Linked DNA regions of Homo sapiens. The protein of the gene in region 1 interacts with the protein of each later gene in a pairwise test. Each region holds a gene or a part of one and is shown on either strand. Other genes may lie near its edges.

Region 1 (3,836 bases):
TTCTCATCTAGCTATAGGACAGAAATGACGAAGTCATATGTGGTTGTGAGGATCAGGTAAGACAGGATGTAAAGATACAGTAAGGCCGGGTGCAGTGGCACACACCTGTAATCCCAACACTTTGGGAAGCTGAGGTGGGAGGATCACATGGGCTCAGGAGTTCAAGACCAGCCTGGGCAACATAGGGAGATAATGTCTCTATTAAAACCAAACAAGGCCGGGCGCAGCGGCTCACGCCTGTAATCCCAGCACTTTCGGAGGCCGAGGTGGGCGGACCACCTGAGGTTCAGAGTTCGAGACCAGCCTGACCAATATGGAGAAACCCCATCTCTACTAAAAATACAAATTAGCCGGGCGTAGTGGTGCATGCCTGTAATCCCAGCTACTCGGGAGGCTGAGGCAAGGAGAATCGCTCGAACCCGGGAGGCGGAGGTTGCAGTGAGTTGAGATCGCGCCATTGCACTCCCGCCTGGGCAACAAGAACAAAACTCCGTCTCCAACAAAAACAAAAACAAAAAACAAAACAAAACCCAAAGTCCGTGTAGACCCCAAGGGGTAGGACTCTCCAACATCAGTCCTGATTCTTCTGAGAAGCCATGGATGAGACCCAGCTGAGGCTCCCGTTTTGACCTTCCCACCCCTGCTGTGCCATGCCCTCCATCACAAGCCTCTAAGTCCAGAGGTCTATAACGTCAGGTGGGCGGCAGCTATCTGAGATCATCCTCACCAGTGCCTGGAAGTTGCCTAAACCCTGGCACTTGCCAGAAGGCCCCACAGAGCAGTAGCCCCAAAGCTGGGTTCCCAGAGACTGGTCAAGAAAATGGCACGTTCCCTCCTCCCTGTGGGCCAGTCATCTGGAAGGCAAGTATGCTGACTGCCAAGACCGCAGGGAAGGCCGCCTGCCCCAGTTATGCACGGTGAAGCATGTCTGTCCCAGCCTGACCCAGGACAGGGAAAGGGGTGTGGCGGGGGGAGCGGGACAACACAGGACCTTGAGTTGCGGTTGGGGGATGAGCATCCAGGGAGGGGAGCTGGAGTCCCCTCAGGAAGGGAAGGGGCAGCACATGAGCGTGTGGCAGGAAAGGAGTAGAAGCTGGGCCTGCAGACAGCTCCCTTGAGGTTGGAGCAGGCAGACCCAGTTACCCACTTGGCTGCTGGGAACTCCTGCTTCCTGGGTAAGCCATGCCAGGCCGTCTGGGGGCTGATGGAAGCTTCCTAAGAACCCGTTCCTATCCCCGCCAAATTCTAGGTGCTGTTTTGTACACTGCAGAATTCCAGCCACCACATCCCAGGAGCTCAGCGGGAAGTTAGAAACCTGGCTGGACACTAGCACTTATTCCACAAGAGAGGGACACACGAGGAAACGAGCAATGCTGCTATCAGAGAAGCCGGCGGCTGGCACCAGCTCAGGGAGCCCCTTAGTGGGCCCTGACCACTGCCCTTCATGTAGCCTCCGGCAGCCCCACAGCAAGGAAATCCCGGACGGGCTGGGTGTCCCGCAGGGCCGGACAAGGGGAGAACATGGACGACAGAATGGAAGGAGCTCAGGAGGCCTGCAACCCAACCTCTTTCACCACTGGGAAGCTAAGGCCTTGAATGACTGCCTAAGGCCGCCCTCAGCATATCTGCTGGATCCTGCCCTACACTCTCGCTACAAGGTGCTGGGATTCCTGCTTCCCAAGCAGCGACTTTCCCTCCAGCCTGAGGGACTCCTTGGGGAGAAAGTGGAGGAAAGCTCCCATATTTGGGCTTGGGACAGCTGTGCCACTGAAGCAGACGGAATGCATTTAGAAGGGCTGCTTTTCCGCTTCCTCCGGGTGCCTGGCATAGGCCAGTGGCCTGGGTCCTCTAGAAGCCACACAATCCCTTCCTAGAGCTCTTCTTTCTGCTCCAGCTACAGGAGACCCCCAGGGGGCCAGGCCAGCAAGACAGGGCACCCGCAGTGTCCTTTCAGGGCCTCCAGTTGTGCCCAGGGGGGGGGGGGCTCCTGAGAGTACCCCCCACAGGCTATAGTGACCAGGTTCCGAGAGGGCTGCTTCAAAACAAAGAGCGGAGGATGCAAACTCAGCCGTCTCTCAGATCCTGGGACTGACCAGTTGAGAAGATACACCAGAAAGCAAGCAACGGGATGAACCTACATAAGAATAAATATAAGGCCAGGTGTGACAGCTCACGCCTGTAATCCCAGCACTCTAGGAGGCAGAGGTGGGCGGATCTCTTGAGCCCAGAAGTTTGAGACCAGCATGGCCACCATTACGAAACCCCGTCTCTGCAAAAAAATACAAAAATTAGCTGGGCGTGGTAGCACACACCTGTAATCCCAGCAATTTGGGAGGCTGAGGCAGGAGGATCGTGCTTGAGCCCAGGAGGCAGAGGTTGCAAAGAGCAAAGGTCATGCCACTGCACTCTAGCCTGGGCAACGGAGTGAGACTCTGTCTCAAAAAAATAAAAATAACTAAAAAAAGAGAAAGGAAAAAAAAAAGATATAAACAACCAAAGATATGGAAGCCTCACTTATCCGAAATTAAAACATTTAACCCAGACTGGTAAGTCTACACTTTCACCGTGTCATAGTTCTAGGAATTTATCATAAAGAAAACAAAACAATGGCTGGGCGCGGTGGCTCATGCCTGTAATCCCAGCACTTTGGGAGGCCGAGGCGGACGGATCACCTGAGGTCGAGAGTTCGAGACCAGCCTGACCAACACGGAGAAACCCCATCTCTACTAAAAATACAAAATCAGCTGGGCGTGGTGGTACATGCCTGTAATCCCAGCTACTAGGGAGGCTGAGGCAGAAGAATCACTTGAACCTGGGAGGCGGAGGTTGAGGTGAGCTAAGATCACACCATTGCACTCCAGCCTGGGCAACAAGAGTGAAACTCTGTCTCAAAAAAAAAAAAAAAGAAAGAAAGAAAACAAAACAGAAGAGGTGCCCAGAAGTACACACAAGGATATCCATTGTTGTATAGCTATCAGTAAGCAAAACTGTATAAACAAACCAATTTACCATCTACAGGGAGCTGGACACATTCGTACAATGGTGTACTAGCCAGGTATCCAAAATGTAGAGCTACACTTACTATTATTTATTTTAAGTCCTAATATTTAAGTTTTTTTGGTTTGTTTTGTTTTTTTTTTTTTTTTTTTTTTTTTTTTTTTTTTGAGACAGAGTCTCGCTCTGTCACCCAGGCTAGAGTGCAGTGGCGCGATCTTGGCTCACTGCAACCTCTGCCTCCTGGGTTCAAGCGATTCTCCTGCCTCAGCCTCCTGAGTAGCTGGGGTTACAGGTGCCCGCCACCACGCCCAGCTAATTTTTGTATTTTTATAGAGACGGGGTTTCACCGTGTTAGCCAGGCTGGTCTTGACCACCTGACCTCAGGTAATCTGCCCACCTCGGCCTCCCAAAGTACTGGGATTACAGGCATGAGCCACTGCGCCTGGCCCTAATATTTAAGTTTTTAAAAGATTAAATATGTATTGCAGTTTTTCTAAGATTCATACCTATAGATTTACTTATACACCTGCTCCAAACTACCTATCGAACTGAAGAATTAAAAGTACAGGTTTTCTGGGGATTGGATGATAAGCCAAAGGGAAGAGAACAAAAACTGCCTGTTTTTTTCCATAAATGCAGATATGCTAATACAATAATAGCTCCTGCTCATGAAGCACCTCCCCTGTGCCCAATGCTGTTCTAGGTAGATTTCATATACTAAGTTCATTTAATCCTCACAAAAACCCTATGAAGTAGATGCTATTATCATCTCCATGATACAGATAAGAAAATAGAGGCACGGGAGTTTATGTAACCTTAAGGTCACTGGTAAATGGGTG
Region 2 (5,493 bases), on another chromosome or scaffold:
GAACTGCCTGTGAGGCTTCCAGTTTCTCTGCCTCCTGGCCCCACCTGTTATTACCTTGCTTTTGAATTCTAGCCATCCTAGTGGATATAAAGTGGTATCTCCTGGTGGTTTTGATTTGCATCCCCTGATGACTAATGACATTGAACAGCTTTCCATGTGCATATTGGCCATTTGTGTATCTTCGTGAGGGGAATATCTATTCAGATCTTTGGCTCATTTTTAATTGGATTATTTGCCTCTTATTATGGAATTGGAAGAGTTCTTCTTACATTCTAGATATAATTTTCTTATCAGATATATAATCTGTGAATATTTTCTCCCATTCTATGCTTTGTCTTTTCATTTTCCTGTGGGTGTCCTTTGAAGCATAAAAGTCTTTTAATACTGATGATGTCAATTTATCTATTTTTTTTTCTTTGGTTATTTGTGCTTTGAGGTCACATCCAAGAATTAGATGTAAAGTCAAGCAGATTTACTCCTATGTTTTCTTTTTAAGAGTTTTACAGTTTTAGCTCTTACATGTATGTCTTTGGTCCCTTTCGAGTCCGTTTCCGTGTGTGAAAGGGTCTAACTCCATCATGTGCATGTGGCCCCTTTCCCTTTAAATCTTTGCAAGTCTCTTTTCTCGATCCATCCTCACTCCATTAACTTTGTCGCAGTTTCCTTTGTGGAATGGAAACAGATTGTAGTCCTCAAAATCAGGTTGTTCCTGAAACTCTCTTCTAATCCAAATCCCCCCAATTCTCTGCGGAGTTGGTGAGCCCATAACTGAGAATACATAACTCACAGTCCTCTTGAACACTGAGGGTGAAAGACGTTAGCATTCATTGTCTTTGTATCAATCATCATTTTAACATGGAAGGCAAATCCCCTTCCTCAGAAACACCAAAGACCTTCTGGAATTGCAAGCAAGCTTCAAGTTGACTAAGTGTGTTCACCTTCCTTCATCTAGCTGCCAGTGCACACTGAAATGGCTTGCATTGCGGGCAGCAGGAAGGATGATGATGAGAAATACAAAACCCCTATAACCACAAAGCGGTGTGCAATCCCTGAGCAACCAAACCTTGGTAATGGGGGATGATGACCCCTTGGCACTCCTGAGCCACGAACTTTTCCTGACTCTATTCTTTCCTTTCCAACTAGGAGTTACCCCGGTCACCACGTTCGCCCTTCTCAACCTGACTAAGTGGGCGTTAGCACTGTCCGCCCACTGCATGGGCACTACCTGCCCCAGTGTCCTCTCCCCTCTCCGCTCTGTGCCATAGCCTTAGCTACCCTGGCCAGCTTTCTCCCAGCCAAGTCCTTCCTCCTTTCTGAATCTGGTCAGGGTCTCAAAGATCGTTAAAAAGCCGCCAAAGTTTGCAACTCGTCTTGAGTGGCTGCTCCTCCCAAACGGTTCTGCCTCTGGTGTCTTGTTCTAGGAGCGGTTGAATTCTCTGTTTTGCTGTGGGTGCCAGCCTCTATCAGCCCCTGCCCTGGTCCATCTGTCAGCTTCAGGTAAGACTACCGGCTAGGAAATGGCCCCTTGTCCTTATCTCTGCCTCTAAAATATGCCACCTAAATTAACAGATCGTGGCATTGCATGGCTCGTCACAGAGAAGCCAAGGCAAATTCTTGTGGAAGGCGGCACTTGTCTGGAAACAGACTCAGGACAAGTGTGCTGCACAGCCAGCTTCCTCAAACCCACTCTCGCCACTGTAGCTGCCCACAGAGGCACCTCCCAAGCCATAGGCCCCTCCTAGGCCAGCTCAGGCCTCACCTTGTCCCTCCCTGCAGGGCGGGGTCTGATTGACTTCAAGAAGGAGTCAGAGATCAGCTTAAGGGCAAAGGCTGGAAGCAGAGCGAACTGGGAGCAGAGCACACAGGTGCGTTCTGATGGGTATTCGGGAGAGTCAAGAAGGGGCTGACCTGGAGGACAGAAAAGCAGTGGAAGGAGGGCACAGAGTGAGGGGCAGAAGAAACAGGACACAGAGGGAGGAGGGCCAGGAAGTGAGGGCGGGAGCCCAGCACATCACAGAAGGTGCCCGGGTGCTTGGTGGCAGGCAACAGCCGGCCAGGGTGGAGTGGGGAAAGCTCAGAGAGGAGGGTGAGCAGGGAGAGGGCTTGCTTCCTGTTCCTGCCTGGAGGTCTCACCAGCCACCACCCCCACTGCCACTGCACATGGGGACAGAGGTTTGTCCTGGGGAAAGCAAAGGTCTCTTCCACATCTTTCTCCTTCCTGGAAAAGCAAAAAGAAACGTGGGTATAAGAGGTTGTAAAAAAGGAGACCCAGCCGTGAAAGGACATGGAGGTACCCTAAATGCACACTGCCAAGCAAAAGAAGCCAATCTGAAAAGGCTGCAGACTGTAAGATTCCAAATACAGGACGTTCTGGAAAAGGCAAAACTATGGAGACAATAAAAAGAGCAGTGATTGCTAGGGTTTCGGAGGAAGAGGTGGAGCACAGAAGATTTTGGGGGAGGTGGAACTATTCTGTGTGATATTCTAATGGTGGATCCATGTCATTGTCCGTTTGTCCAACCCATAGAATATGCAGCAGCAAGAGTGAGTCCTGATGTAAACTGTGGGCTCTGGGTGAGAGTGATGTGCAGGTTCATCAGCCACAAATGTATGGCTCTGGTGTGGATATTGATAGTGGGGAGGCTGCGTGTGTAGGGGCTGTGAGTATACAGAAACTCTCAGTACCTTTCGCTCAATTTTGCTATGAACCTAAAATTCCTCTTTAAAAGACTCCTATTTAAAAGACTTTAATAGACTTTATAAAGTTTGTTAAAAGACTTTTAATAGACTTTTTAAAGACTTTTAACAGACTTTATAAAGTCTATTAAGAAATCTATTAAAGTCTATTTTTAAAAGTCTATTAAAAAAAAAGTCTACTATAATCCCAGCACTTTGGGAGGCCAACGCAGGAGGATCACTTGAGCCCAGGAGTTCAAGACCAGCCTGGGCAACATAGTGAGATCCTGACTATATATATATATATATATATATATATATATATATATTTATTTATTTATTTATTTAAGTCTAATAAGAAGTCTATTTGGGGCCAGGCCTGGTGGCTCATGCCTGTAATCCCAGCACTTTGGGAGGCTGAGGCAGGTGGACCACTTGAGGTCAGGAATTCAAGACCAGCCTGACCAACACGGTGAAACACCATCTCTACTAAAAACAAAAAATTAGCCGGGCATGGTGGTGCACACCTGTAATCCCAACTATTCCAGAGGCTGAGGCAGGAGAATTGCTTGAACCTGGGAGGCAGAGGTAGCAGTGAGCCAAGATCGCATCACTGCACTCCAGCCTGGGCTACAGAGCAAGACTGTCTCAGGAAAAAGAAAAAATAGTCTATTTAAAGAAGAAAAAAAAGAGGCCTGGCCAATATTTAATAGGAGAACACAAGAACTCACCTCATATCCTTCCTGCTGGCTCTGGGTTCCGCCTGCAGCCCCTGCCTCACCTGCTCCCTCCAGGTAAGCAGGGCCTCCGAGAGCCCAAGATCATGTGGGTTCCAGGGTCTTCTGCCAGCACCAGAGGGCAAGACAAGGCAACTAGAGGGACATCCCCATGAGAGGCCATGACCATGGAGCAAAACGAGGGCAAGGGGAGAGCCCTCGGGGAGAGGGGCATGGGAAAGGGAGAGAAGGACATCTCAGATCAGCCTTTACCGTGGCCTCCAGGGCTAGAGAGCCCTCGGGTGATGGAACAGGCCCAGCCAACACCTTTCATTTGTCTATGAATCAAGAACTGCCCATCGTGTACAAATTAAATACAAAGTGCTAAGGGGACTAGTGGAGAAGTATGTTAGTTGGGGCCAAAAACAGCATTCCTCGGCAGTGCGGGGTTTCAGCTGACCTCAAAAGGTGGCAAAGGATGTGACACTGGCCCAGAGTCGGGTGGGAAGGGACAATGTGCAGCTGAGCTTCTCTGGAGGAAAAAAGCCACGGGAAAACAGGGCCTCTAGTTAACACATGGGTTGTGTTCCCAACGCTTGTGCTTCGGAAATGTGATGTGTAAATGCATTTTCCAAAAACAAAAGCAAGAAATGAAAAGCGCTCATGATGGTCAGGTTTCCTCAGTGGGTCACTCCACGATACACCCAAAGTGGAGCTGCTGCACCTCAGTTACACCTCACACCCTGTGCCGCCGACTTTCCAGGTGAAATCCTCGGGGCCTCCCTTGCAGGCAGCCTGGGCCCCCTGGGAAGAGGCTGGGCCAGGCAGAGGTCTGAGACAGGAGTGGATTAACCCTCTCTGCTACCTGTCTGTCTGCACAGGAGAACGAGTTTTCTCCAGGTTTACCCCCAGGGCTTCTGATTTAGGGAGCAAAAGGCAACTACCTATGAAAATATGAAAACAAGGATCTCTCAGAGTCCAACCCACTCATGCATCCACCTTATAAATCAAGTGTCTGTGCCTCAGGCACTGCTTGCAGGAAGTGAAAAGCACAGCTGAGACAGGGAGGAATCCTGAAGCGGGGCTCCCAGCTCAACCCAGAGCCTTGAGGAAGGGGGTGCAAGGTGGCAAAGGCAGTGCTTCTGTAGGGAAATTTCACGGTGACGGCAGCCTTCCAGGGAGGCCCACATCACCTAGGAGGACAAGTTAGGGTCTGGAGAAACTAAGGCTGGGAGACAGCTCCAGCCAGCATCTGTAGCAACAGCGCAACAGGCAAGAGTAACAGTCTCCCAGAGACTCCGCACACAGCACATGGGAAGACAGAGCTGTGGCCACCACGTCTCCCAGCCCTGCAGGAGGCTCACAGCTACAAGCACAGGATTTTACAGCTGCTTGGGGAATGGGGTTATGAGGTGAAGACCCTGACCCACCCTCCCTGAGAAAGGAAAAGGCATCTTCCTAAGATGAAACCCTCCCTGAGGTCCCCTCCTAGTAGCCTTGGGTGGACAAGAGAGGTGAATGGGGCACAAAGAAGGCTAGGCAGGACTGGGCACCTCTACCTCACCCCCAAAGCCATCAGTCTGCAGCCTAGTCACACCTGAATCACTCTACATTGCGTAAAACTTTAAATGGGCTGGTGTCGATAGCCTGTATTTAACAAGAAGAGCAGCTAACATTTCTCATGTATTTCCCATATGGCAGACATTGTTACAAACACTTTATATTTACTGTTTAATTGATTTCTCTCCACAACCCTAGGAGCTAAGCACTGTTGTCATTATTTTCATTTTAAAACTAAGAACATGAAGGCCCAGAGAGTTTAAGCAGCGTGCCCAAGGCCACACAGCAAGTCCTAGTGGCATGAGTCACTGGGACTTGACTCAGACAGCCTGACTCTAGAGCCTACCTTTGAATTTCTACACTAAATTTCAAAATCTGTCTACCTAAAAGGTATTTCGTTGTGTCAGAAATGTAGTTTTGCTGTTAATACAGGTGTCTTCTTCTCCAGGACACAAGAAGCACCTGGGGGCATGTGCAGGGGCCCAGCCTGGCCTCTGTGACTCACGGCACCCCTGGCTGAGATAATACACAAAAACAAGGG

What was found. Proteins that work in one complex are often made in the same cells at the same time.
Region 2: the proteins of RBPMS2 (region 1) and AOC1 interact in binary tests that used the Homo sapiens proteins (3 or more experiments, as listed by UniProt).

The regions. Positions count from the first base shown.
Region 1 is NC_000015.10:64,741,669-64,745,504, forward strand, and holds part of RBPMS2 (RNA-binding protein with multiple splicing 2), read right to left. Parts: intron 1-3,836.
Region 2 is NC_000007.14:150,850,694-150,856,186, forward strand, and holds the start of AOC1 (diamine oxidase [copper-containing] isoform 2 precursor), read left to right. Parts: upstream 1-1,823; 5' UTR 1,824-1,865; intron 1,866-3,410; exon of another isoform or gene 3,411-3,470; intron 3,471-5,493. UniProt on the Homo sapiens protein: Catalyzes the oxidative deamination of primary amines to the corresponding aldehydes with the concomitant production of hydrogen peroxide and ammonia.